5 separate regions of the Homo sapiens genome follow, and regions 1, 3, 4 and 5 are each reported to be linked to region 2. Evidence: microRNA targets listed by miRTarBase, many of them from high-throughput screens and not tested one by one. Region 2 holds a microRNA gene; each other region holds the end of a gene's coding sequence. Distances are from middle to middle.

What was found. Region 2 holds the annotated microRNA hsa-miR-142-3p (UGUAGUGUUUCCUACUUUAUGGA, at 3,210-3,232, opposite strand). A microRNA usually pairs through its seed, bases 2 to 8, with sites in the 3' UTR of a target mRNA and lowers its output. Matches are read on the target gene's strand: a 7mer-m8 pairs with bases 2 to 8, a 7mer-A1 pairs with bases 2 to 7 and ends in A, and an 8mer does both.
Region 1: the mRNA of PSMD12 is a reported target of hsa-miR-142-3p. The part of its 3' UTR that is shown has no 7-base or 8-base seed match.
Region 3: the mRNA of ENTR1 is a reported target of hsa-miR-142-3p. The part of its 3' UTR that is shown has no 7-base or 8-base seed match.
Region 4: miRTarBase lists MRFAP1 as a target of hsa-miR-142-3p. Seed matches in the 3' UTR shown: 7mer-m8 at 3,523-3,529.
Region 5: miRTarBase lists KRTAP4-5 as a target of hsa-miR-142-3p. The part of its 3' UTR that is shown has no 7-base or 8-base seed match.

Annotation. Positions count from the first base shown.
Region 1 is chr17:67,336,484-67,341,584 of GRCh38, forward strand. It overlaps PSMD12 (proteasome 26S subunit, non-ATPase 12), which reads right to left. Exons shown (of 11, transcript NM_002816.5): 11 at 1,433-4,569. The coding sequence ends at 4,360. Among named protein-coding and RNA genes, the nearest start is that of PSMD12, 28 kb to the right of the region's middle.
Region 2 is chr17:58,328,036-58,333,136 of GRCh38, forward strand. MIR142 (microRNA 142) reads right to left here and starts at 3,283; the gene lies at 3,197-3,283. TSPOAP1 (TSPO associated protein 1) reads right to left here and starts at 760. Exons shown (of 32, transcript NM_004758.4): 1 at 1-760. It overlaps TSPOAP1-AS1 (TSPOAP1, SUPT4H1 and RNF43 antisense RNA 1), which reads left to right. Exons shown (of 5, transcript NR_038410.1): 2 at 15-86. It overlaps MIR142HG (MIR142 host genes), which reads right to left and starts at 4,485. Exons shown (of 1, transcript NR_186557.1): 1 at 2,853-4,485. RefSeq lists enhancers at 633-702, 1,233-1,402, 1,503-1,582, 3,373-3,512, 4,313-4,382 and 1 more and a silencer at 4,493-4,802.
Region 3 is chr9:136,398,202-136,403,286 of GRCh38, forward strand. ENTR1 (endosome associated trafficking regulator 1) reads right to left here. Exons shown (of 10, transcript NM_001039707.2): 10 at 3,721-4,686. The coding sequence ends at 4,587. SNAPC4 (small nuclear RNA activating complex polypeptide 4) reads right to left here and starts at 1,969. Exons shown (of 24, transcript NM_003086.4): 1 at 1,933-1,969; 2 at 98-236. The coding sequence starts at 227. RefSeq lists enhancers at 1-452, 2,182-3,118 and silencers at 1,627-1,736, 1,807-1,936, 2,007-2,216, 2,367-2,416.
Region 4 is chr4:6,640,289-6,645,373 of GRCh38, reverse strand. MRFAP1 (Morf4 family associated protein 1) reads right to left here and starts at 4,689. Exons shown (of 2, transcript NM_033296.3): 1 at 4,116-4,689; 2 at 2,645-3,644. The coding sequence starts at 4,511. The coding sequence ends at 4,128. LOC124900653 (a long non-coding RNA gene) reads left to right here and starts at 4,753. Exons shown (of 2, transcript XR_007058007.1): 1 at 4,753-4,854. RefSeq lists a silencer at 3,652-3,721.
Region 5 is chr17:41,144,874-41,149,966 of GRCh38, forward strand. It overlaps KRTAP4-5 (keratin associated protein 4-5), which reads right to left and starts at 4,952. Exons shown (of 1, transcript NM_033188.4): 1 at 4,051-4,952. The coding sequence starts at 4,894. The coding sequence ends at 4,349.

The DNA of each region.
Region 1 (5,101 bases), 9.0 Mb from region 2:
AAGGCTGAGGCAGGAGAATGGCGTGAACCTGGGAGGCGGAGCTTGCAGTGAGCCGAGGTTGCGCCACCGCACTCCAGCCTGGGCAACAGAGCGAGACTCCGTCTCAAAAAATAAAAACAATAAAAAATAAAAAAAAATAAAGCTCTAAGTTAGGAAAATTGTTTAATATCCTCTCAAAAATGCCAAGACCATTTCTCTGCATCACAGAAGGCAGTATGGAAGCAGACTTTCAAACCACTAAACTCCTAAAACAACGGGCTCCGGATGAGCATCTCGCTGTAGCTTTACCGCCACATGTACCTTAACTGATATCCATGTTTTTTTCCCCTAAACATCTAAAACACCAACACATTTCAGTTCTTTTCTAGTCCTTACTACCCATGTTGTCAAGAAGAGTGGTTCTCAAAGTGCGGTCCATGGACCAGTAGTTCGGGTACTGAGAACTTGTTAGAAATTAAAATTCGTGGGCCCCGCTCCATCCCGACTGAGTGTGAATCTGGGGGTGGAGCCCAGCATCTGTGTGTAACAAGCCCCGCGCATATTCTGATGGGCCTTGAGATGAAGAACCACTTGTCAGGTGCCCAATAAAGCACGGCCTAAGCCACCAACCCCAAATCGGGAGTTTAGGAGGGGCAAAGTCCGTCAGCTGGCTTTCGAAACATGTGCAAGGTGTTTTGTCACCGCTTAAAAGGCAGGTTCAGATTCATCCAAAGGATTTGAAAACTTGGTCCACACAAAAACCTGCACACAGATGTTTAGTTTTATTTGTAATTGCCAAAATGTATAAGCAAGGTGTCCCTCAGGAGCTGAATGGATAAACTGTGGTACAACCAGACAATGGAATATTACTCAGCACTAAAGAGAAATAAGCTATCAAGCCATGAAAAGATGTGGAGGAAATGGAAATGCGTATTACTAAGTGAAAGAAGCCGATCTAAAAAAAAAGGCTACCTACTGTGATTCCAACTATATGACATTCTGAAAAAGGGAAAAACTATGGAAACCGTAGACTCACAATTGTCAGGGGATTTGCAGGAAGATATGAACTGGCAGAGAACTGTGGGGCGGTGAAGTATTATGGTAGTATAATGGTGGATACATGCCATTATACATTTGTCCAAACACACAGAATGTACAAGAATGAACCGTAAACTACGGACTTTGGGTGATAATGGTGTCAAAACAGGTTCATTAGCTGTAAAAAATGTGCCACTCTGTGGGGGATGTTGACAATGAGGGAGGTGTGAGAGCAAGGAGGATATGGGAAATTTCTGTACCTTCCACTTACTTTTGCTGTGAATCTAAAATTGCTCTAAAAATATAATAAAGTCTTAAAAGACAAAACAAAAAAGTAGGTTTAGAGAGAGATGATTTGGGGTAAAAATGAAAATTATGGCTTTTTGTTTCAGACAATGAGAACTGAAAAGAGAAGTGATCTTTTAAAGTATGAGTTTATTCTCCAGGTTTTCTTAAATACCCACAAATTAGTGTTTTTATTGCTGCTATATCCAAGAGCTGAAAACAATTTAAAATATGTACTTTTATCACATTTAACACTTACAAGAGAGAAAATGGAACTGTTTGAATTTTAAAGATGTTTTTCAGATTCAGTAACATATGGAAATTGAGGATAATCATAGAAACAGCTATTGAACTCTAAAATAAAAAAATTATATGGAAATAAAAGGTATTTCATTTGAAAAATGGCTCATCACCTCTCCTGCTGGTTAATACACTAATGACAATGAAATGGAATCAAGTGTTATCTTCTCCACATTTAAAACAAAGTGCTTCTTCTCCTGATTGCCAGCTTTAGGTCTGAAATGTAAAACAGGATTAATTGAGGTTCCGAACAACTCAAATATTTCACTATTGTACTTTATGCTAATGAATTATTTTGTAATACTAAGAAAATAAATTGGTAAATACCTCATATATTTGCTGGATTAATGTTTGACAGGAAAAAACACGAAATGGATGAACAGCTGATCGAGTCGAGTGCAATTTGGTCACTGGGACACAGTTACAAATAGCACTGAATCATAATACACAAAGAGCCTAGTGTGTGTTAAAGAAAGACGAAAGAGGAGTTGGGTGCAGTGGCTCATGCCTGTAATCCCAGCACTTTGGGCAGCCAAGGCGGGTGGATCACCTGAGGTCAGGAGTTTGAGACCAGCCCGGCCAACATGATGAAACCATCTCTACTAAAAACACAAAAATTAGCTAGGTGTGGTGGCAGGCGCCTATAATCCCAGCTACTTGGGAGGTTGAGGCAGGAGAACTGCTTGAATATGGGAGGCAAAGGTTGCAGTGAGCCGAGATCGTGACACTGCAATCCAGCCTGGGCAACAAGAGTGAAACTCCGTCTCAAAAAATATGAAAAAAATAAAGAGGAGGAACACTTGCAATCTCTATAGCAACCTATTTGGCCAAATAGTCCAGGTTTGACAAGCCCACAGGTAATGAGTCTCTAGAAAGATGAAGTTATTGAGAAGCTAGTTTCAAATTAGCTCCAATTTTATTTACATGTTAACAATACACAATTTTATCTTCTATCCTTTTCATTCAAAGGAAAATTAAAACCATACTCTGTTAGTGTGAACTTCTGTTTCTGAACTTTCCAGTTTTGTTTTTTTTTTTTTGAGACGGAGTCTCACTCTGTCACCCAGGCTGGAGTGCAATGGTGTGATCTTGGCTCACTGCAACCTCCGCCTCCTGGCTTCAAGGAATTCTCCCACCTCAGCCTCCCAAGTAACTGGGACTACAGGCACACGCCACCACGCCCGGCAAATTTTTGTATTTTTTTTAGTAGAGACAGGGTTTTGCCATGTTGGCCAGGCTAGTCTCGAAATCCTGACCTTAGATGATCCACCCGCCTTGGCCTCCCAAAGTGCTGGGATCCACTGCACCCGGCCTTTTTTGGTTAGTTTTAAAAAGATAAGTGATAGCAGATGTTGATGTTATTAGTGTGACCAATGCATTGAATTTCCAAAGAATAAAATCAGATTACTTCAGTACTGTATGTCATTATTCACAATGACTCACAGGATAAATATGACAGATATCCCACAACTGTCTTCAGTCCTGGGATCATAAAATAGGACAATTGATAATCTTCCATTAAGTGGAAAATTAATTAGGAGAAATGCCATTTCTAGAATGCTGTTTTTCTTTTTCTCTTCATTTGAATTTTTTTAAAGTAGACCTCACACTTTCTTTATTTAAGTATCATTTTAAATAACCTTCTAACATTGTTTTTTCTATTTTCTCTGAAATAAATCAAATTAAACTTGCAAAATTCGTTCACACCAATTCATCTCAGGTGTTTCTTTGACAGCAAGCTACTTTTAATTCCGTGAAAATATTTTAATACTACACCACTTACTATGAGGGTGGCCTGACGTCTTTTTGCCATTTTTTTAAAGCATTAAAAAAAATTAGGTTATCCAGTGTTCATATAATGGAACTAAAAGTTCCTACAGAGATAATGAATTTGGAACAATAATGATGTAATCAGACTTACAAGTTAAAGCCACAAATAAGCCTTATAAAAACAACTTTATGTTAAATTTAAACCCATATAAAGAAAGGGGAGAGGAAGAAGAGCAAAAAAAAAAAAAAAAAAAAAGTAGTCACTATCCCTATAGAGCGGACTTAACACCCAATAAACTGTGTCAATTATGTCAGCTGATTCTGTTGAACAACTGATCAAGTGAGAGGATGAGGGCTGAAAGCAATCAAGCTACTGTGATTGGAACCAGCCGGACTCAAAAAAAAAAAAAAAAAAGTCTACAGTTTACCAGCATACACACTCAGTCTAGACTTTCCGCCACAATATCAAAGTACAAATTCTTCACAAATCACAACTCTATCCCAAATGTTCTTGTATGCTCTATGTTGCTTTTCTATTCTACTAAATGACTGATAGCTTTACAATGAGATTTGTTTTATTTAAAAAACACTTGCCAAATCACTACCCCACAAAATGTTGAGAATCAGAGGTAACTGTAGAAAGGAAATATGTATATACTGCTTTTATTATTGGAATATGTTTGTTAGTTGAATGAAAACAAACAGTAGCTAAAAAGGTTTCAAATGATAGAAAAACATATCTGGGTAAGTTATGACACAACTTTTTGTGTATTCAGACGACAGAAATCTGTATTTTTGCACCAATTGCAAATGCAAAGTTAACAATGAACTTGGGGAACTGAAAGGTCAAAGGGAGTCTCAAACATATTCACTATTTTAAAATTTAAGACAAAGAAGCTTAGAAAAAAAACCCCAACATATACACCATTATAACAGTCTTTTTTTAATGACTTCCAATTTTAACTTTTTTCTAAAGCACTAAGACCCTTATTGTAGATTATGTATCATCTCCTCTTTGGCTATGAGATGCGTAGTTTTGTTAACCAGAGACATTAATGAGTTCAGTTTCTGAGACCAGTCATTTAATAAATTATTTGGATCCTTGGGTCTCTGGAAGTTGATAATTCCTGCTAATCTGTCTACTTTAGCAAAGATGGTCTTGTTAACTACTAGATTTGAGAGAAAGGCTTCGGACTCCTGCAAGAGAGAAAGATAAATTGGATTAAGACAGGATAAATTACAGACAATAAACAAAACTTCAGAAAAGCATTTTCTGAACTCTTCATCCAAGAATATGCAGGGGAATTCATTCTTAAGAGTTAGTAACACTCAGCTGGGTGTGGTGGCTCACACCTGTAATCCCAGCACTTTGGGAGGCTGAATTGGGTGAATCACTTGAGGTCAGGAGTTCAAGACCAGCCTGAGCAACATGGTGAAACCCCATCTCTACTAAAAATACCAAAATTAGCCAGGCATGGTGGCACACGCCTGTAGTCCCAGCTACTCAGGAGGCTGAGGCAGGAGAATCGCCTGAACCCTGGGAGGTAGAGGTTGAAGTGAGCTGAGATCGCACCAATGCACTCCCACCTGGGCGACAAGGTGAGACTCTGCCTCAAAAAAAAAAAAAAAAAAAAAAAAAGAGTTAGCAACTGCTGACTTCCTATAATAAGTACTTATTTTACTGATAGTCTAGGGAATGAATAGAATCTGAGTAGACTCAGTCAGGGGT
Region 2 (5,101 bases):
ACGCTCCATCCAAGGTTGGCTGAGCTCTTCCCCACCCACAAAGGAGGCTGCAGAAGGCGCCAGGGCTGCTGGAGCTGGAGCCAGGGGTATGTGAGCTATGTTTGCTGGTAGCTGTGTGTGTGCGCGAGTATGTGGAGGAGCGAGGGTGTCCCTGTGGGGGTAGGGAGGATGTGCAGAGGCCACCGACAGCTGCGCCTGGGTGAGGGTGCGTGTGTGTGTCTCCAGGTCTGTCCGTGCAGGTCAATGCTGTCTCATGTGTTGGGAAGATGGGTGCCCCCACTTCTGTGTGTTGAGGGGGGTGGTGCTGTGTGTCACTGTCTGCCCATTTCAGAGTTGCCAGTTGTTTGTGTGTGTGTGTGTGGGTGTCTGTATTGCAGGGCTGTGGCAGTATGTGATGCTGTCCCTGGTTGTATCTGAGTGTGTCAGTGTCGTGCAGCTGTGTGCATCGGTGTCGTTGTGTGTCTGTCAGTGTCTGTGGGTCTGGCCGTCTGTCGCAACCCCTCAGCCCGGCCAGAGGCTTCAGGAGCTGCTGGGGGTGATCCCCAGTGGTCCGCTGTGGTCCTTTATCTCCGGCTCTGCTCTCTGCTGCTGCTCTTTCGCTTGCTGGGTGGCTGGGCTGGTCCTAAGGAGGCCTGGGTCGATGGGCTGCTTGCCTCATAGTCTCAGCCCCTGCTGGCCTCTGCTCTGGGGACTGCAGGGGTCCCTTACAGTCCAGGAGCCTCGAGATGGTGGGCTCCGAGGAGGGCTGAGCCTCAGAATTGGGTGGGGGGGTGAGCCGGGAAGAGCCAGCCCTCCCCTCCTCCTCCTCCTCCTCCCCTCCCACCCACCAATAGGAAGTCGGCTGCTGGTTTCCATGGTGATGGCGCTGGACTGGTGGGCTGAACCGGCTGACAGGGTCGGGGACAGAAGGAAGAGCAGGTTTCTCACGGCATGTCAGCCCAGGGCTCCCACATGTGGCCTCCCACCCTCATCTTCACACATTCTCACACCTTCCGGAGTACAGAGGCGAGTGGGGTGCAGATGGTCCTCCCTACATCGGGTGAGACTGATAGAGACAGAACGGGGGAGGGTATGACAGAGATCCAGCCACAGAGAAGGGCAGAACTAGAAAAGATGGGACTTGAGATGAAACAAAGAGAGAGACAGAAACCAAGAGAAAGAAACCGGGAAGACAAGCAAAGAGACAGGTAGAAATAGACGGAGAATTCCTTCTGCTTCCTCCTGGCAGATTGCACTTGGGGGGCAACCTGGCTGTCCCAGGCCACCAGGGAAGCCCACATGGCCTGTTGGGTTGGCTTTGTCCCGAATTGCCTGGAAGTTCATCTTCTGTCTAGCCTTAGATCTTGTTGCTAAATAATTTGGGGGACAAGGACGTGAGAATCCCCTCAGCCAGGAGTCAGTCTATATGCAGTGGCAGGGGTCTAGACAGAGTCCCCAGAGCCAGGGGTGTTGGGAGAAGCCCCGAGAGGCAGCCCCTCTCCACTCTGAACCCGGGACTCATTAGGCAAGCCAGTTTCAGCCAAGGTCGGGGGCCCTCGTGTGGCACCCCCACAGAATAGCAGCGGTGATACTGAACCCTAGAGCCCCTGACTGTGGGCTCCACCCAGGCAAGAGCCAATGGAACTGGAGGTAGGGGGTGCATGGGGAGGAGTGGACATCTTCACTTCCCTAAAGCAGTGTGTAGGTCAACACGCACGCCACTGCATGATGTGTTGCTGTTTAGGTCAGAGTATATATGCATGCCATTATGCGCATGCGTGTGTATAGTATGCATCTATAGAATAGACATTATCTATTTCTGTATATGTGAAGGGGCCATTGTGTGTATATATGTGTGTGCTATTATGTGTCTATGAGTCACATAATAAAACGTAACAAAAACACATTGGGTGTATCTGTATGTATGTTTCTGTGTCATTGCATCTATGTTTGTTTGCCACTGTGTCTATGTGTGTGCTGTTATGTGCATGGGAGGCTATCATTGCATGAGTTTATAAATTACAACACATCATGATATATATAGATATGGATGCTACTATATGGCACAATGTAGTAATTGATTACACAATATATGACATGCTCATATCGTCATGTAAATATGCATAATGACATGGTTTGATTTATATATATATATCACCATGTATCTATGTATTCTATATTTATCATGATATATGAACATGTCTCTATCTATGTATGTGTATGGAGCCACCGTGTTTATTATGCAAATGTCACTGTATGTGTGTGCTCTTCTATGTGTAAGACACGCCCTATGTTTCTATCATTGCATGTGTGTACTACTGAATATGTATGTGCCCTGGGTGTGTGTAATCCCTGTGTGTGTCATGCCAGTCATGTCACATGTGTCTGTGTGTGTGTTACTGGCACACTGAATGGGGCCTCTGTGTGTAAATGCATTTGCATCTCAGTGTGTGCTTTGTATATGAGTGTCTGTGCCCTTGTCTAAGATGCTGTGTATGTGCCACAGTGGATTTTGCCCAATTTTTATATGACCTAGGACCCCCTAGACTTTCTTAGATTAAAACTGGATGTAGGCAGCTTTCAGTTTGGGTATGTAGGGGGGCAGGATAGGGCCAGAGCTAGGGTAGAAGGTGAGAGGATGCCTTACATCCCTGCCCCTTTCTGCAGATGGCCCAGGCCCTTCTCTCCTCCGGCTGTGGCCTGGCCAGGCCCAGAGCCCTCTTCTGATCTCATAGGCAGGGCCAAACCCGTATCTTCTGGAGGAGCGACAGAGGTTCTCCCTCCCAGCCCTTCTGTGCGCCCATACTGTCCATGTGCCTGCCGCCCGCATTCAGCTCCCCACCCCAGCAACAGAGTCTCAGACAAAAGAGAAGCACAGTCCAGTCTTTATTAGCATTGGGTCCCTGGTCCCACCACCCATTCCCCTCCACGTACCATCCCTTCCCACCCCTTCCTCGTCCTTGACGCTGCGGCTGCATCAGGGTTCCACATGTCCAGCCCTCCCCGCCCCCAAAGACTGCAGGGCAGCAGAGGAGCTGCTGTGGCCTTTCCCCAGCTGTCCGGAACCAGGAAGGGCAGGAAAGCCATGGAGGCCTTTCAGGCATCTGGGCAGGGTAGGGAGGGGCCGTAAGGTGCTCACCTGTCACACGAGGTCCCCGAGCGCCGAGGAAGATGGTGGCGGGCAGCGGGCGGCAGCAGTGGCGTGATCTCCGAAGCCCACAGTACACTCATCCATAAAGTAGGAAACACTACACCCTCCAGTGCTGTTAGTAGTGCTTTCTACTTTATGGGTGACTGCACTGTCTGTCTGTCCGTCGGCGTGTACTCTTCAGGCTGCCCAGGCCTCCTGACTCCTGCTCCAAGAGCCCCCCAGCCCTCCTTGTGGCTTCCTAAGATCCCCCCAACCCTGCCAGGGCCCCCCGAGGGCCCGCCCTGGGCCTTGTGGGCGGTGACTCAGCATGGCGCCAGACTTGCCTCCTCTACCTCCCTCCCCCACTTCCTCTTCAGTTCCCTCTTCCCTTCCCCCTAAAGGCTCCACCCCATCCCCCCAGTTTCAGAGACACTCAGGTAGAGACTAGGGCCTCTGGAGGCCTCACCTTCAGTTCTGTGAACCCCTGGCTGGCCGCTTCCAGCCACGCTAGCCACCCTCCAGCGTCCAAATGAGGCAGCCACAGCTCCCCTGCCAAGGTCTTGGTCTCCAGTCCACCCCAACCGTGAGGTCCTGACTGCCCAGAGCCTCAGTCCCCACCCTTCAGCCTCCCCACCAGCCCAAGATCCTGACCCCCCAGGGCCTAAGTCCCCAGCCTCCCCAACAGCCCAGGGTCCTGACCCCCCAGGGCCTCAGGCCCTGGCCTCCCCACCAGCCCAAGGTCTTGAACACACCAGGGCCTCAATTCCCAGCCTCCCCACCAGCTCAAGGTCCTGACTCCCCCAGAGCCTCAGTCCCAGCCTCCATAGCAGCCCAAGGTCCTGACCCCCCAGGGCCTCAGTCCCCAGCCACTCCACCAGCCCCAAAGTCCTGACTCCCCAGAGCCTTGATTCTCGGCCTCCCCACCAGCCCAAAGTCCTGACTCCCTCACTGCCCTGCTGTTCCCCTGGCAGGAGCCCAAGGCTATCCCAACAAAAATGGTGGCCATGTTGGGCGGAGGAAGAGGCTGGCGCCCCTTGAGACACTGGTCCCACTTCTCAGCCTCTGCGTACCCTCTGCCATCCCCGCCTTACTCTCCAGCCCTCCTCCTTGGACACCTCTTTCCCCGCCTGGGGTCCCGGAGCCATTTTACCTTCCTTCACTAGAGAGGGTTTCAAGGCGCTTTGCCCTGAGCTTCCCGCATGGGGCTTGCACCCAAGCTCCTCGACACCCCCAACGCGCCTCCACCCAGACCAGCAGCCCAAGCCCCTAGAGGCCCCGAGCTGAGGAGCCCCAGTTGGGGCAGCAGTGAAGGTCCGGATCCTTACCTGAGGCTGCAGGGCGGAGGAGAGCTCGCCCTGTGCTCCAGGCTCCGAAGTGGGGTTCCCTTCAGGGAGGGCAGGGCTTATAACCCCGAGGCCACGTGGGCCAGATCTCAGGGCGCCCAACGGTCTCAGAGCGCGCCCCGCCCCCGCCCGCAGGGGATGAGCGCCCTCCCTCCCTCCCTCCCTGGGGAGGACAGACTGACAGGAAACAGAAGGGGGTGGGCCCGCGGGAGGGCTGGGGACCCTCTCTCATGCCCTGGGCAGGTGGCTTCCGGCCCCAGCTGCCCTTCCCCCCGTGGCACCAGCTCCAAGGGATGGCTCAAGAGCCTGGGACTGACTCAGGGCATTGAGGGTGACCCCAGAAGACCAGGGCTCCTCGACAGGGCCCTCGGTGAGTGCCCAAAACGGGGAGTCCAGAATTCCAGCACAAGAAAAGGACCTTCTCTCTGAGCCCCACCGCTGCTGACCTCAGCCCAGAAAACTCCCTTCCCTTCCCAACACTCAGGCCAGGCCCTGGCTCCTCTGCGTGTGCTCCCGAGGGCCATGGAGGTGCTGATGCATGAAGGGCGTCCATGGAGACTGTTGTCCTCAGCACCCCACAAAGCCACCCCTCCTGCAGCCTCAGCCTGCAGGGCACAGTGCGGGGGACACTCTCAGGCCCGGTGGACTG
Region 3 (5,085 bases), not on the chromosome of region 2:
CCGGCTACCATCACTCCCTAATGTGCCTGAGAGGAACCCAGGAGGCAGACCAGCTGTTCTTACCAGGACCCCAGGAGGCTAGGTACAAGGGGCTTACCTGCTTCAGAATCTGACTCGAGACTTGATTCTGAGATCTCCACGTGGGAGCCCGAGGAGCCGGGATCCAAAATCCTTTCCAGCTCCTTGATCTCCTGTGTTATCTTCTCTCTTTCAGCATCTACATCCATGACTCCCGCCTGCCTCCAAAACACACCCCGAGATGTTAGAAACCAAGACCGTGCCGGGATCCCATTCTCCTTCAGACACACCCGCCCATGGGGGATGGCAGGAGCCTGCTCGGCAGTGGGCACTGGGCTCCCCAGAGAAAGATTAATAGGCCAGGCACAGAATCGGGGAACCCTGGGACAGGAACCTCAGACCCCACAAACTCCTGCTATGTGCTCTGCCAGGAGCCTAAGCCCCAAGAACATCTCCCGCCTGCTCTGAGGCTGCAACCAGCACAGGCAGGGAGTGGATGAACAAGGACAGGCCCCACTGTCCCGTCTCTGCTCCCACACCAAGCCACATGGAAACTGGCCACCCAGCGTAGAAGGTGTGGGGTGCAGTGGCAAAGTCACTACAGGGCAAGGACACAGCCCGTGACCCACTTTGGCCATCCTGCTCTCCCATGACACAGAGCCGGACCACAGAGGGCATTTGAGAAACGTTCACAGAGACACACACTGAGACTGCCCAGGTGGCAGGCACTAACAGCATGGTTGGGAAGGAAGCTCCCAAAGGGAAGGCTGGCTGTTCTCTGTACATCCAGAACAACGCCTGGAACGTGGCAGTGCCTGACACTAACAAATGTTTGTCAAGCTTTTTTCTTAGGAACTGTGGTCCAGGAAGTCTGAAGGGAGAAGGACGCTAGAGAGAGAGTGGGAGAATGAAACATTAGCAGAGAAAATCTAAAGGAATCACTAGCACAGACCCGGGAGCCCAAAACACCCAACAACAAAGAGAAACGCCCTCCCCCGTCCTTGGCGTGGCTCTCCCTGCTGGAGGCTGACTGGGGCCCTGCCCAACTGGAACAAAACCAAAGCATCCACCCGCGAGCACCGTTAGCCGCATCAGCAGCCCAGGTCCCCTCACTCCTTCACAAAGCCCCTTGTTTATGCCCGAAATGCTTGTGAACCTGTAAACTCAGTTAACAGCCGGCCAGAGGCAGAGCTGGCAGCGACCGCAGGCTGGTTCAGCGCCTCCGGGCCGGCGGAGACGCTTTCCTCTGGAAGCCTCACACGAGGCTGCTGCCTCCCCCTCCCCGTGTCGCTCAGGTGAGCAATGATCAGCAGGAAGGAGGTCAAAGTCACACGTGCTGAGCCACTGACATCAGGGGCTGTCCCTCTCCCCGCACCCCTCTCCCAAGGGCTGGTCATGAGGGCTGCCCACCAAGACGGAGCGCAGCAGGCGGTCCCTCCAGCCCCAGCTGCGGGGACGCCACCCAGACTCGGCTGGGCCCAGGGAACCCCAGGATGCGCCAGGACGATGGGCGTTTAGGCACTGGCTTGGGAGACAGACCCGGCCCAGGCCCAGTTCCGCCTCCTGCTCGCTGCGTGAACTGGGGAAACCCCCTCCGAGGCTCGGCCACCGCGGAATCGCCGGCGCAGTCCCCGAGACGCACGCGGGCGCCCTGCAGCCGGGGCCGCCCCGCCGGAGCCTCCTCGGAGCCCGCAGCCCGCTCCCAGCCGAGGGGCTCCCAGGGCCAGAATCCCCGCGCGCCCAGGCTCGGCCGGACGGGGGCCACGCCGGGCCTCAGTTTCCCCGACTTTGGGCGCTGCCCCGCCCCCGTCCCGGGCCTCGGCTATCCGCTCCTCGGGACAGCGCCCCCTCCACGGGGAGAGCCCTGAAGCTGCCGACGCCACCCGCGCCTCACCTGCTGGGCGCACACCTTACCTGGCCGCGCGGACCCCGCCGTCGCCCGGGCGACTGCAGACTCGACGCTTCCGGCGGCTGCAGAACAAGAGCGCCGCGCGCCGGAAGTCCCGCCTCCTGAGGCGCGGGGCACGCCGGGACGGCCGCTGCGGCCTGCCGGGACTAGAGAGGCGAACGGCTCGATGCTGCCCTCGCGCGGCCGCCCTGGGGGCCGCCTCCGCGCGCTCTGGAGGGGCGCGGGTGGACGCGGGACCTCAAGGCAGGGGACAGACAGGGACAGGCACCCGGCCACCTGGTCACGATCCGGAAGACCGGCCCTTACTGGCTGTGACCTTCGGCCATCGCTGGACCTCTCTGTGCTTGTTTCATCCTCTGTTAACGGACATGTTGGGGTTTGGTTAAGCAACGGATGAGAAAGTCTACGTGAAAGGCTTTTTCCCCAGCCTGCCCTGCATGCTCAGGATCGCCGAGGCCAGGCCGATCTCCAGGCACGTGCAGGAGACTGAGGCCAGAGGGTGGGGGCCCGCACCACACAAACTCGCTTCCCTGGTCACCTGTGCACACCCTCTGGGGTCTCCTGGCCTGGAGAGCTGCCCCGGGGCCCTCCCCTAAGTGGGCATTCATTCCTTCAGGAACGTGCCAGGGCTAACTCGGCCGGGAGCTGGGCAGGGGCCTACAGTTCCTGGCTCCTGAGAGCTTCTAAGTATCGGTGCTGCAAAGACATCCTGGGCCCAGCCAGTTGAGGGGGCCTCCACTCCAGCCTGGGGTGAGCTAGGGGCATCAGCTGGAGAACTATAAAGAGGGTTTGCCCTGCCTACCTAGGAGGTGGGCTTTTGGTGGCAAAGGGCTAGGCCCAGGTGAGGCCAAACTGGGAGCTAGGGATTGGCAAGAAACAGATGGAGGGGATGGAACCAGGCGGCTGGGGGCTCCTCGAGCGCCTCGTTTCAGTCCCTGCATCGGGCTTGAAATCTGGAGGCAGAAGGCAGGCACTAAATACCGCGCCACAAATTGTATTTTTAAACTTCTTACTATCAAACGCTTCAAACACAGACATCAAAAGAGAGGGGTGCGCAAAACCCACATGCCCATCCCCACCGCGCTTCCCTGGGCCCCACCTGCTCCATGAGCTGCTGGCATGAGGGCCAGGGGACCACCCCACTTCACACGCATCTGGTGGATGGGACCCGCCTGGCGATCTGGCCTTTGTGACCCCCACCCCATCAAATGCTGTCTCTCCCAAAGGGCCTCAGGGAAGGCCTGTGGCCTGAGGCATCCTCCCCAGATGCCCCCATCCTGCTGCTACAGGGCTCCCAGAGCTGCCTATACACTCAGAACCTCATTCCGGCACTTCCCAACCACAGCACCCTGTCTCAAGTCAGCTCTGCCAACAGAATCCAGAGCCTGCTTTCACCAACCAGCAGGAGCAGGAGGCGCATAGGGCTACGCAGCAGGACCGCTCCACAGTGACTGCTGGAAAGCTCTGGCCTTCACCTGTAGCTAAGGCTAGGGGTCTAGCAATTCAGACGCCTTGTTTGAAAAATTCAACCACATGATCCGAAAAGATGATCCAATGCTAGAATCCAGTCTGTCCAGCTCTGAAACGTGCAGCTGCGTGACTCACACGTCCATCACGTGTGGGTCCCAGTGGTCAGGCCCAGGCAGCAGTGGTCTGAGTCTGCCCCTAACCCCAAGGGCTGAGGACCTGGAGAGAATCTGCCAGCACAAGGCACCAGTTAGGGCAAGAGCAAGTGAGGTGTGGAAGCCCACGGCGTTCTCCAAGGACTGGCTAAGTCAGCAGAGAAGAGACAGTGCGGTGAACTACAGAATTTATTAAATAAGAAAGCTATCAATTGGAACAGGAGGAAAAAAAAGTTTTAAAAAAAATCTATAGGAAAATAGTCAAAAAAGCATTTAGTGCTCATCGCCGTCCCTCTGAGGGGGGCCGTCAGAAAGGCAACTGGGACCTGACAGACCCGGGCACATACTTGAAATTCCTGAATTCTAACCTGCATTGTACAAAATGCCACTTGAAACGTCCACCAGAACCCCCAGCCAAAGAGGCACATCTGGACAGCTTCACAGCACGGAACGTGTGACCTTGGTCCCCGTGGGTCCCGGAGGAGGACAGCAGCAGCCACGCGGTGGCCCCTGCGCACTCAGGCCATGACTGCAGGGACCACCCACTGGGGCCACAAGAGTGACCCGGGAGCCAGAGGGAGCCCTGAGCATCGGCGGAAGGCACAGGTCCCTGCCCGGGGTGGCCATCTCAGAGGCACATTTAGTGTTTGTTCTACTTATGAAATCAAGGACAACCAATTGTACTTATCTTACAACTGATGTTCTGGGATGGGACTGGAAAACATTGATTCCAGAACCACTCTTTTTCTTAAAATCACTGGCTTTTATGACAATGTCTTCCAAGAGCTCATTAGAATCTATAAGATCGCAGGAATTTCGCCAAGAAGGGCTGCATAGAAACCACAGAGACAACTCGGCCAGGGCTGCTCCCATTGTGGTGGCCAAGAACTGGCTGAGGGCACGACACTGGACTCTTGCGATCAACACTTTACTCTGGGTGAAGACTGCATATTTAAGGACACAACTGCACATTTAGATCGAGCGGTGGTGACCTCAGGGTATACACGGAGCTTCATGCTGAGAACACCCAGGGGTCCTCAAGAGTCTTCCTCCTCGTCTTTAACTTCAGAAATTCTGTCTATAGATTTAAGGATTTCGGCAACAAGATTCAGTGTCTCAGCTCCGGAAACCAGTTGCCTGAAAACAAGCATGGATATCAGGATGGGTGGCAGCAGCTACTCAGCAGCAACAGGGTTCTGGGGGGAGAAAGGGGAGGGGTTGGTAGGGGGAAAAAGGGAGGGGTTCCAAGGGGTAGGGAAAGGGGAGAGGTTCTGAGTGGGAGGAAGGCGAGGGTTTCCAGGGGGAAGAATGGGGAGGGTTTCCACAGGGGGTGGGGGGCAGAAAGGGGAGGGGTTGGTAGGCAGAAAAAGGGGAGAGGTTCTGAGGGGGAGAAAGGGGAGGAATTCCGGGGGTGGGGGTGGGGAAGGAAGGGGAGGGTTTCCAGAGCGGGGAGGGATTCCACAGGGGAAGGGTTCTGGCGGGGAGAAAGGTAAGGGGTTCCAGGGAGAAAGGGACAGAATTCTGGGGGGAGAAACA
Region 4 (5,085 bases), not on the chromosome of region 2:
TTCTGGGTTGGATGCAACAGATGTAAGTTTCCTTTGTAGCTCATCGGCCAGAATTAATCACGTGGGCCCACCCAACCCCAAGGGGGCCAGAAAGTGCCATCTTACTCTGTGCCTAGAAGGCAGAGAATTGGAATTTATTTGGTGAACAGCACTAATGACTTCTACATTTTAACCCAGAAAAGCTTCATTGCTCTCTGAGGTTATTTCCAGCTCTGCCATCCTGTAATACCAGGACTTTGGGAGGCCAAGGCAGGTGGATCACTTGAGGCCAGGAATTCAAGACCAGCCTGGCCAACATAGTGAAACCCTGTCTCTACTAAAAATGCCAAAATTAGCAGGGCATGGTGGCACCCACATGTAACCCCAGCTACGCGGGAGGCTGAGGCAGGAGAATTGCTTGAGCCCTGGGAGGCAGAAGTTGCAGTGAGCCAAGATCATGCCACTACACTCCAGCCTGGGCAACAGAGTTAGACCCTGTCTCAATAAATAAATAAACAAATAAATAAATATGGCAACTCCAGCCAGAAAATTTAATGACTGTACAGCCACGTAAGACTGTCTCTCAGAATGCTTCTTACCACATTCTTTGCTTAGAAAATGCAAGATTGGATTGCTCCTCCAATTGCTAGCAAGCCAGGAGTATGAAATTCAGGAGCTGGGGCAATTGGGAATTAGTGGCTGCATTGCAGTTGTGACCAGAATCATAAAAAAGAGGAACTAAGGAGTTACTGGAAAGATTTTAGGACAATAGTTTTCAAACTCTGGCATAAGAATGAACACTATGCAGCCTTAAAAAAAAAAAGAATGCAGATTTAGATGTTAGATAGGAAAAGACTTCCAAGTAAACAAATGAAGGACACGAACAGATTATACAGTGTGCTACCATTAATGTAAAAAACAAAACAAAACAAACAGGTGGCCTGGGCGCAGTGGCTCATGCCTGTATTGCTAGCACTTTGGGAGGCCAAGGTGGGTGGATGGCTTGAGCTCAGGAATTTGAGACCAAAATGGCCAAGATGGCAAACAACTGTCTACAAAAAATACAAAAATTAACCGCGGTGGTGTTCCAGTTACTCAGGAGGCTAAGGTGATCACTTGAGCCCAAGAGTTCAAGACCAGCCTGGACAAATAGCGAAACCCCACCTCCACAAAAAAAAAAAAAAAAAAATACAAAAATTAGCCAGAAATGGTGGTGTATGCCTGGTCCCAGCTACCAGGGAGGCTGAGGTGGGAGGATCACCTGACACCAGGAAGTCAAGGCTGCAGTGAGTGGTCACAACACTGCATTCCAGCCTGTGAGACACAGAGACCCTGTCTCACCAAAAACAAAAAAAAGTGGAAGCCGTTCAAACACATTAGTATTTGTAAGGATGTATAAGAAACTTCTAGTTTCCTGAGAGGGGAACTGGGAAGCTGGGGAGAGATGAAGGATCACTTTCGTGTCATTTATAAATCTTACTCATTGAAAACAATCGACTTCCCGATGCAATGTAGTATCCCAGAACAGAAAAAGGGCCTTAGTGGGGAAACTGGTGAAAGCAGAGAAAAGTCTAGTTGGTAGTGTTGTACCAATGTTACATTTCTTGTTTTGGCAAATGTACGAAATGTAGTTTTCGTGGTTGTTTCCCAGTTCATAATTCTGTCCTATACATTTCTTCTCCCTCCTCTGTGTGGAACTCACACAGAAAACCTTGAACATCTTCCATTGTTTCCTGTGCCTAGCATGCCTCTCCTGCTCTTCCTGACCTCGGAAGCTGTGCTCCTCTTTCAAGGCCAAGCTCTGAAAGAGTTACTTGCTCTGGAAAGCTTTCCTAGACCTCCCCCTCAAGTGTTCTCCTGGGACATTCTATCTTTATTAGTGCTAGGGACACATGGCTTTGTTTGATTTCTACCAACTAGGTTGCCCAGAAAGTGGACTCCAAGATGAAAACTAGATGCACGTTTTTTAGGGATTAACACTTGTGGAAGAGGAGGAATGCAAGGCTGGGACGGGGGAGGAGGTGGGCTGCGTGATGTAATCCTAACAAAAGCCTCAGCAGACCCCACAAGCTCAGAAGCCACCATGTCCCTCAAAGTTGTCCCAAATTGGGGTAAGAGAAATAGCGACCTGAGATTTCCAGCCCATTACTCACTAGATGTAGGCTACCCAGGGAAAAGGGCATGACTTTGGCTAACGCAGCTCTCCTCTGAAAAGGCACTGCCCAGAGGGCTAACCAGCTGAAGGGTGTTTGTCAGCAACACTTCTAGCAGCTGAGGCAGAAAGGCTTCAATCTGGAAGGAGGGTGGGGTATCACATCTCCTCTATGTCATCCCTCACCCTGCAACTGTAATCGCTATATTCCCAGTGCAAGGCCTAGAAAACAATGTTCCAATTGGAAAGACTGAAGGTGCTTTGGCTCTCTGAAGGCAGAGGCCTGGACCACAGGATTACATGTGGTTTCTTCCCACACTAAGAACCAAGTGTGTTTCTTCCTCACCCGGTTCCCAACAGCAGAGAGAGAAAGCTTCCCTTTGATTAGAGACTAAGAGCCTCAGAAACCGTTAAGATGTTCACCCTCCATTTGACAGTGAGAACCATCTGGGAGACAGCAGATTTCATTCTTAAAGGACTAACATTTCTCAATAACCTTTTAGGTCTTTCGTCTTTTCAAGCAAATGAATACTTTTATTAACATGGTAAGTTTTTGTTTGTTTTAACATGGTAGGGTTCTGACCTCAAATATTTGTTAGGTCTGCTACTCAAATGAACTTACAGCTGGACAACGTATGAACCTTGAAGATGCCTCTTCTAGTCCAGTTTAGGGTCCAATGCAGACAGTTCCATACTGTCATCCCCAAGCCCCTCAAGGGCCTTTGCCAATCTTTCATTTTATGCCAAGTCCTCTAAAACGCATCAGGGTATTACATCAACTTGTACAGAATATCAAGATCTTATCTTCTATTTTAGGTTCCATGTCAAATAAAGCTGAGTTAGGTTGTCCAAACAAACTCACCAGACAGGTTACATAAGATAGTGTACCACAACAAATTTAAATTTTGAACAAAACACATCTCTCCTCCTTTGGTCTCACACAGAAATTAAAGTCTCCAAATACAGACAATACTATCCATTCTCCAGCTCTTCTCCAGATTCACGAGTCCCAGCCAGGTCGGCCCATCCACACTCCCCGTTGAAGTCTGGTCCTTTCTTCAGTAGTTGCTGCATGGAGTCGTCTTCCAGAATTAATGCAGCTCCTTCAGCACCTCCAGAGCTGGAGAACTCCAACTGTGAGTCTCATGTGTCACACACAGACCCAAAGTTCCAGGGAGCTATCAGGTCACACAAGAAATAGCAAAGCACCTCAAAAATTTAGAAATAACCACCAAAGCCCGGGAACAAATGTGACTGCTGCAAGAGCTTACAATCTAGGCCCTAATTCCTGTATGTGAGAGCATTTTCAAACAAAATTACTTCCCAAACAAAAACACGTTAACAATCGAAACTCATATTGAGGTCATCAACCACAGACCATAGCAGAAAACGTAGTGTTAAGTGAGACAGAGCATAGACAGGAAAAAAGAGAAAACAAAAGGCTCTCTGGTTTCGGCTTCTCCAGGGTGTCAGCCAATCTCCACCAGTTGACCAGAATCCATTGGCTGGAAACCTAAAGCACAATGGGAAGAAATTCATCATCGAGAGGTTAATCCCAGGCACAACGACCCCCAAACCCTCACGAACGCCACTGTGCAGGACGCCACCTCTTCTGGCCACCACCTGACTCACTCCAGTCTCTAGCAACGTTGACTTGTCCAACGTCTTCCCCGAAAATCCTCTATTTCCACCCCCGCTTGCTGGACGGCCCGGGACCTTGTCCGTTTCTGTTTCCTTGGCGACTCTGAGATTTATGACCCTTCCACTGAACACGCATCACGCCCAAACCCGGCCACTCTGATTATCCCACGCCGCCACCGTCAAAAAACAAAACACGAAGACGGGGCCCAGATCGGCCCTGACCCGAGCACGCCTTTATTCTCCCGCCCCACCCCCGATTCCGGTGCATCTCGATGAAATCATCGCTCTCGAAGAGCGGCCAAGCTGGGGCCGCTCCTCGGCCTGGCGCGGGTGCCCGACTTACCGCCGACCGCGCTCACGACGACTCGCTCTTCTCTATCCGCCGGACCAGCTCCACCAGCATCTCTGCCATCTTCGCAATCTCCTTGGCCTTCTCCTCGGCCTTCTCGCACCTCTTGGCCGCCCGGCCCTCGGCCGCGTCGCCCGGGTTCTGGAGGTGGTTGAGGGCGCTCTCCTCCGAGGCCTCCACCTGCGTTTTGATCTGGATGAGCATATTGTCCATCTCCCACAGCTTGCTCCGGTTCCGCAGGTACGCCCGCCCGTGCTCGCGCGTCAGCGACGCGATGTCCTCGCGCATCTCGTTGATGACCGGGAGCAGAAACTGCTCGAAATCCTCCTCGGGCTCCAGCACCTCCACTTCCTCCGGTTCCGCCAGCTCGACGATGTCCAGGGGCCGCATCTCTTCCCACTGCCTCGGAACCGCAATAGCGATGTCTGTTGGAGAGAGAAAACCGACACTCGCTATGCTTAGCAATAGAGAGCCCGAATATTCCTGAAAACTTTTACCCTTTTTCAACTTTTCTTCTCAGAGAAGCCACGGACAAGCGACTTACGCGCAGAGTAACGGCGAACAAAATGGAGTCCCGGCCGTCAACCAGCGCTCTGCGCGTTGCGGCCCCTTTCACGACACAGCCGGGCCTCTTTACGGTCAGGGGGGCGAGCTGCGGGCGCGCGCACGTCTAGAAAGAGAGGCACCGGCGGCGGCGTCGCGGCCGCACGGACGCGCACGCAGGCACGCGCAGGTACGGGACCGCACGCTCTCGCTCGTTCCTGCTTTCCCGTTACCTCTGTGCGTCACCCCTGTTTTACCCTGTGTTTGGAGGGTGGCCTCTTCTGGGTGTTTCCCTCCGATAGGGCTTCTTGAGCACGCGAGTTTACATTTTTTAAAAAGGCCTCCCGCACTTCCCAGGCGCGGTGGCTCACGCCTGTAATCTCAGCACGTTGGGAGGCGAGGTGGGTGGATGGCTTGAGGT
Region 5 (5,093 bases), 17 Mb from region 2:
CCCTACCTACTTAAAGCCAATAATTAAAGTTTTTAAAGGATAAATAAATAAGAAAGGATAAGATGTGCCTAAAAAAGAAGAACTTAAAAAGAATAAGCCATTTAGAGATAAGGAAGAAATATTTACATTAAAAGACTAGAATGGAATCGTTGGCACAATTATGCACTAACTACACTTGTTCTTTTCAGAAACTTAAGCAAAATAAAAACCCAATGTTTTATGGAATTCCTGTCCCTCCCTCCCTTCCTTCCTTCCTTCCTTCCTTCCTTCCTTCCTTCCTTCCTTCCTTCCTTTCTTTCTTTCCTTTCTTTCTTTCCTTCCTTCCTTCCTTCCTTCTTTTTTCTTTCTTTCTTTCTTTTTCTTTCTTCTCTAAATATTGTATACTGAGAATTTTGCTGGATGCTGGAATAACAAAATAACAAACGACATGTTTTGCAATTGTTCTACTGTTTTACATATATTCGCTCAATTACTAGTCCCAACAATCCAGTATGGTAAATTCTATTATAATCCTCCCTTCACAGATGAGAAACTTAAGGCACAGGTGGGATTCAAGCCAGTAAGCAGGGGAAATGTAATTTTATTTCAGCCAGCCCAGCACTGGGTCCATGTTTTTAATCACTATACACACAACCTCTCTGCAAAATCAGATATGAAAGGAATTTTCTCTATCCTCATGTTGCTTTTGATGCAGTAAAATTTATGAATTTTTTTCTTTGACAGCTCCTGGGTATGTGTCATATTTTAAAAGGCCTTTCCAGTTATAAATTTACATAAGCATTATCCCATAATTTCTGTTAACTTCAAGGTTTCATGTTTTATATTTTAAAATATTTTACCTACTAGGAATTTATACAGATAAAAATATGAGGTTTAAATGTTTTATAATCAGATGTGACCAAGGCTCAACATCATTTATTAAATAATACATCTTTCCATTACTGAGTTAAAGTGCCACCTTTTCATATAATAAATTCTTTTGTGTACGTTAGTCTATTTCTGGACTTGATTTTCAATTCACTAATGATTTTTCATGTGCTAGTATCACAGTCATCAATGTATGGTATTAACATGCTTCTAATGGTTATCAAGTTCAAGTCTGCCTTGATAGGTTATGGCAATATGCTAGTGAACTCATATATCTGTGTTGCAAAATTGTATATGTATACTGCGTTCCTTGCCATGAAAATGTGAATTGCACCTGTCTGGGCTCTGAAACTGGCATCGAAAAGAATACACTAGCTGAGTCTGCAGTGGCGTATGAGTCTTACTAGGTTTGTTGAGTTTCCTGTAAAATTCTGACTTAGGTGGTGCAGCTGAAACAATTGGTGGAACCAACTTGTTTAATCACCAAGCTTGTTGATTAACCTCTTCCTTACTCACTGGCCAGATGGGACTGTTATAAGGGAGTTCATGGGAATTAAAACTCTTATTTCAGTTACTTCTTTAATCAAAACAGGCATCTATTGTTGCCTTTCTGGAGTTCTATCTTGCTTAGTTTTACTAGCTAGAAAGGCTTGAGCAATTCCAAAGCTATATATTTAGCATGGGCAAATAGTACTGAGAGACTTTGAAGTGAATGAAACATCAACTAAGTCAATGTTTCATTCACTTAAAATCCATCTCTACTGTGCATTTAGATAAAGCTGATGTGACCACAGAATAATAACTGCAGTCACACTTTCCCATTCATAAATTTATGTCTACCTTGGGTTTCACCACAATGTCTTCCATATCATCTTTGGACCCTTCAGAGCACCATAACTCTCTCCAAAGCCAATGACTGTACTTGAGTGTCTGTGCATACTTATTCTAAGAAGTTTCGCATGCCACCCTTGGGACATTTCACCCAAATTATTGCATAGGCCTTCAGACCCGGGGTACCTGCTCCTTGTTATTGTGAGCCCTGGGTACTGAGCTTTCCCTTGTTGCTTTCCCTGAACTCTAGCTACACCTTTGCAAATAGTCTCTTTATTACGCAGATACACTGTGTCATCTCATTCCTGCTGTGGCCCAGTTCTTGTGGACACAGGAAATTACAAGCCTCATATACTTTAATACTGAAAAGACCATATAAAACCTATAGTCTTTGATTTCACTCTAGCTAATAAAGCATAATGTTAAAACCAAAGCCTGCATCCTGTAATGAGCAGTTGTCAAAGAAAAACATATGAGAGGATAAAAGGTTTGTTAATTCTGATGTATGAAATGACAAGTCTGTACTCTGTAGAATAATTTAGAGTGAATGGAAAAGGCTGAAGCTGAAAGTGTCTGCAAGGCATTTTTATGATATGCTAAGACCATAACGCCTAACTTAGGCTGGAGTGAAGCCCACGTAATGTTAACTTCTATTCATGCAGTCGCTTGACAACTTAAAACTTCTTTATTTTTACATTTCAGAAATAATAATTAGCTCTTAGTTACATTTCTTTGGAAATATAACACAGCTAATAAATAAAATTCTGATTTATAGAAATTTTGGATTTAAAGCAGTTTTAATATACTTTGGATTATTAGCTGAAATATAAACCCTTATATTTATATAAATAAGATATTTTGCACATATTGTGACACATTTTTTCATCTACATAGAATAACACTTGTTTGAGTTTTGATGATGAGAAAACTGAGTCTCAAGGAAAAGTCCCACCCATGTTCTCTTAAGACAAAGCAAGGTGATTAAAGCCCAAAACAAAGGAGTAAAACTATCAAGAAAATGAAAAAACCTCAGTAACATTAGGGGCTAAAATTATAAAGGAGTTTCAGTCTGGAAATACTAAGACTTTGAGCATCTATTAATTAAAAGATGTAAAACTTTTATGAGAAAACTGCCACAGATGTCATAAATTTCCCGAAATCTTGACTTAGAAGGTAGACTGTGTTCTGAAAGATCATTTTATGTTAAGAGAGGAAAAAAGGAAGGAAGGAAGGAAGGAGTGAGGGAGGAAGGAAGGAAGGAAGGAAGGAAGGAAGGAAGGAAGGAAGGAAAGAAGGAAGGAAGGAAGGAAGGCAGGTAGGCAGGCAAGGGGAGGGGAGGTGGAGGGAAGGTAAAGGGATTAGAAGGGGAGGGAGGGGGAAGTAAGGAAACAAGAAAAAAGTACTTGAGCTAGGGAAAACACTCAAAATTTCCACAACAAATAATGGAACATACTGGAAGTAGAAATACAGTCAGACAAAATGTAGATGACTTCATGATGTTCAACTTGCTGGAGTTTTTAAGGGACACTTGAGGCATATACCAAAACTTAATTTTGAGTTGTAGAAGACAGCGCAACAATGATACAAATTTTCTTGCTGTTCTGTCAAAAAGAAAATTATGCTAAGATATTATTCTAGCCCAGGGTATTGTTTCAATCATAGTAACAGCAGAAATTGTATTTATTTATTTATTTATTTATTTATTTATTTATTTATTTATTGAGACAGAGTTGCTCTGTCACCCAGGCTGGAGTGCAGTGACATGATCTCGGCTCACTGCAACCTCCTCCTCCTGGGTTCAAGTGATTCACCTGCTTCAGCCTCCCAAGTAGCTGGGACTACAGGTGTGCACCAACACGCCCAACTAATTTTTGTACTTTCAGTAGAGAAGGGATTTCACTATGTTGCCCACACTGGTCTCGAATTCCTGGCCTCAAGTGTTCCACCCACTCAGCCTCCCAAAGTGCTGGGATTGCAAATGTGAGCCACCACGCTCGGCCAGAAACTGTATCCATTAAGAGCCTATACTGCATTATGTACCAGGCCCTGTGGTGAGTATATTACATGGGTTATGTCTCTTAACATTTAAAGAATGTAATGCATTATCTCTATTCACAGAGAAAGAAAACTGAGGCCTGAGGAGGTTAAAAAACTTGCCCCATGCCACGCAACAAATACCTAGGGGAGTCGTGATTCCAATGCAGGGAACATGAATCAAGAGCCCAGGCTCTTAAACATGCTCTCCTGCATTTGAAGAGAGATGGCCCTTGATGTGAACTGACAGGTAAAGACACACACACACACACACACACACGCACAATGAGATCACTAACAAATCAGAAGATTTCAATATTAGGGAAGTGGCTGTTTATTAATACATGAAAACAATATTATATGAGATCATCACAGTTAGTGTCCCCTTCGAATGAAGACACTGCTCATCTAAAAATAACTGCATTGGGGCCTGGCATAACATATTTTAATGAATGTGATTGTCTGTCATTTCCTAGAAGAGCTGAATGTCCACTCTGAATGCCACATGAGACAAACTGGCAGGGAAGTGTTCATTTTTCCAGTGACTGGCTGGCTACAGTGCATTTTAAATGACTAATGAAGACATTCATAGTATGACAAATATCACAAGGAGACATTAGCAGCAAGAGGAGGCACAGCACAAGGGGCGGGGGCAGGTGGAGATGACACAGGTTGGGCGATAGCAAGTGGTGTGGCAGGAGACTCGGCCACAGACTGGACGCACGCAGCAGCAGGGGCGGCAGCAGCTGGATTCACAGCAAGAGGGGTGGCAGCAGCTGGAGATGCAGCAGCTGGGACGGCAGCAAGTGGGCTGGCAGCACACAGACTGGCAGCACTGGGGTCTGCAGCAGCTGGACACACAGCAGCTGGGGCAGCAGCAGGTGGTCCTGCAGCAGGTGGTCCTGCAGCAGGTGGTCTGGCAGCAGCAGGGGCGGCAGCAGCTGGATTCACAGCAATAGGGGCGGCAGCAGCTGGAGATGCAGCAGCTAGGGTGGCAGCAGGTGGGCTGGTAGCACACAGACTGGCAGCACTGGGGCTTGCAGCAGCTGGGGCGGCAGCAGGTGGTCCTGCAGCAGGTGGTCTGGCAGCAGCTGGGGCGGCAGCAGTTCTCCAGGCCACAGCTCTGCTCAGAGCTGACAGAGCCACAACAGGAGCTGACCATGGTGTCAGAGGGTGGAGGTTCTGGGTGGATTTCTAGAAGAATGAGGTTCTCAAGTTTGGAAGTGTCCTTGGGCCACAGCCTCTTATATACTGCCCAGCTGTCTTGTTGGTACTACATTTTCCTTGTTTTTGTTTACTTAATAACTAAGTGATTATCAGATTACACAATAATGTTTGCCCATTTAATGGTTTAAACTTGT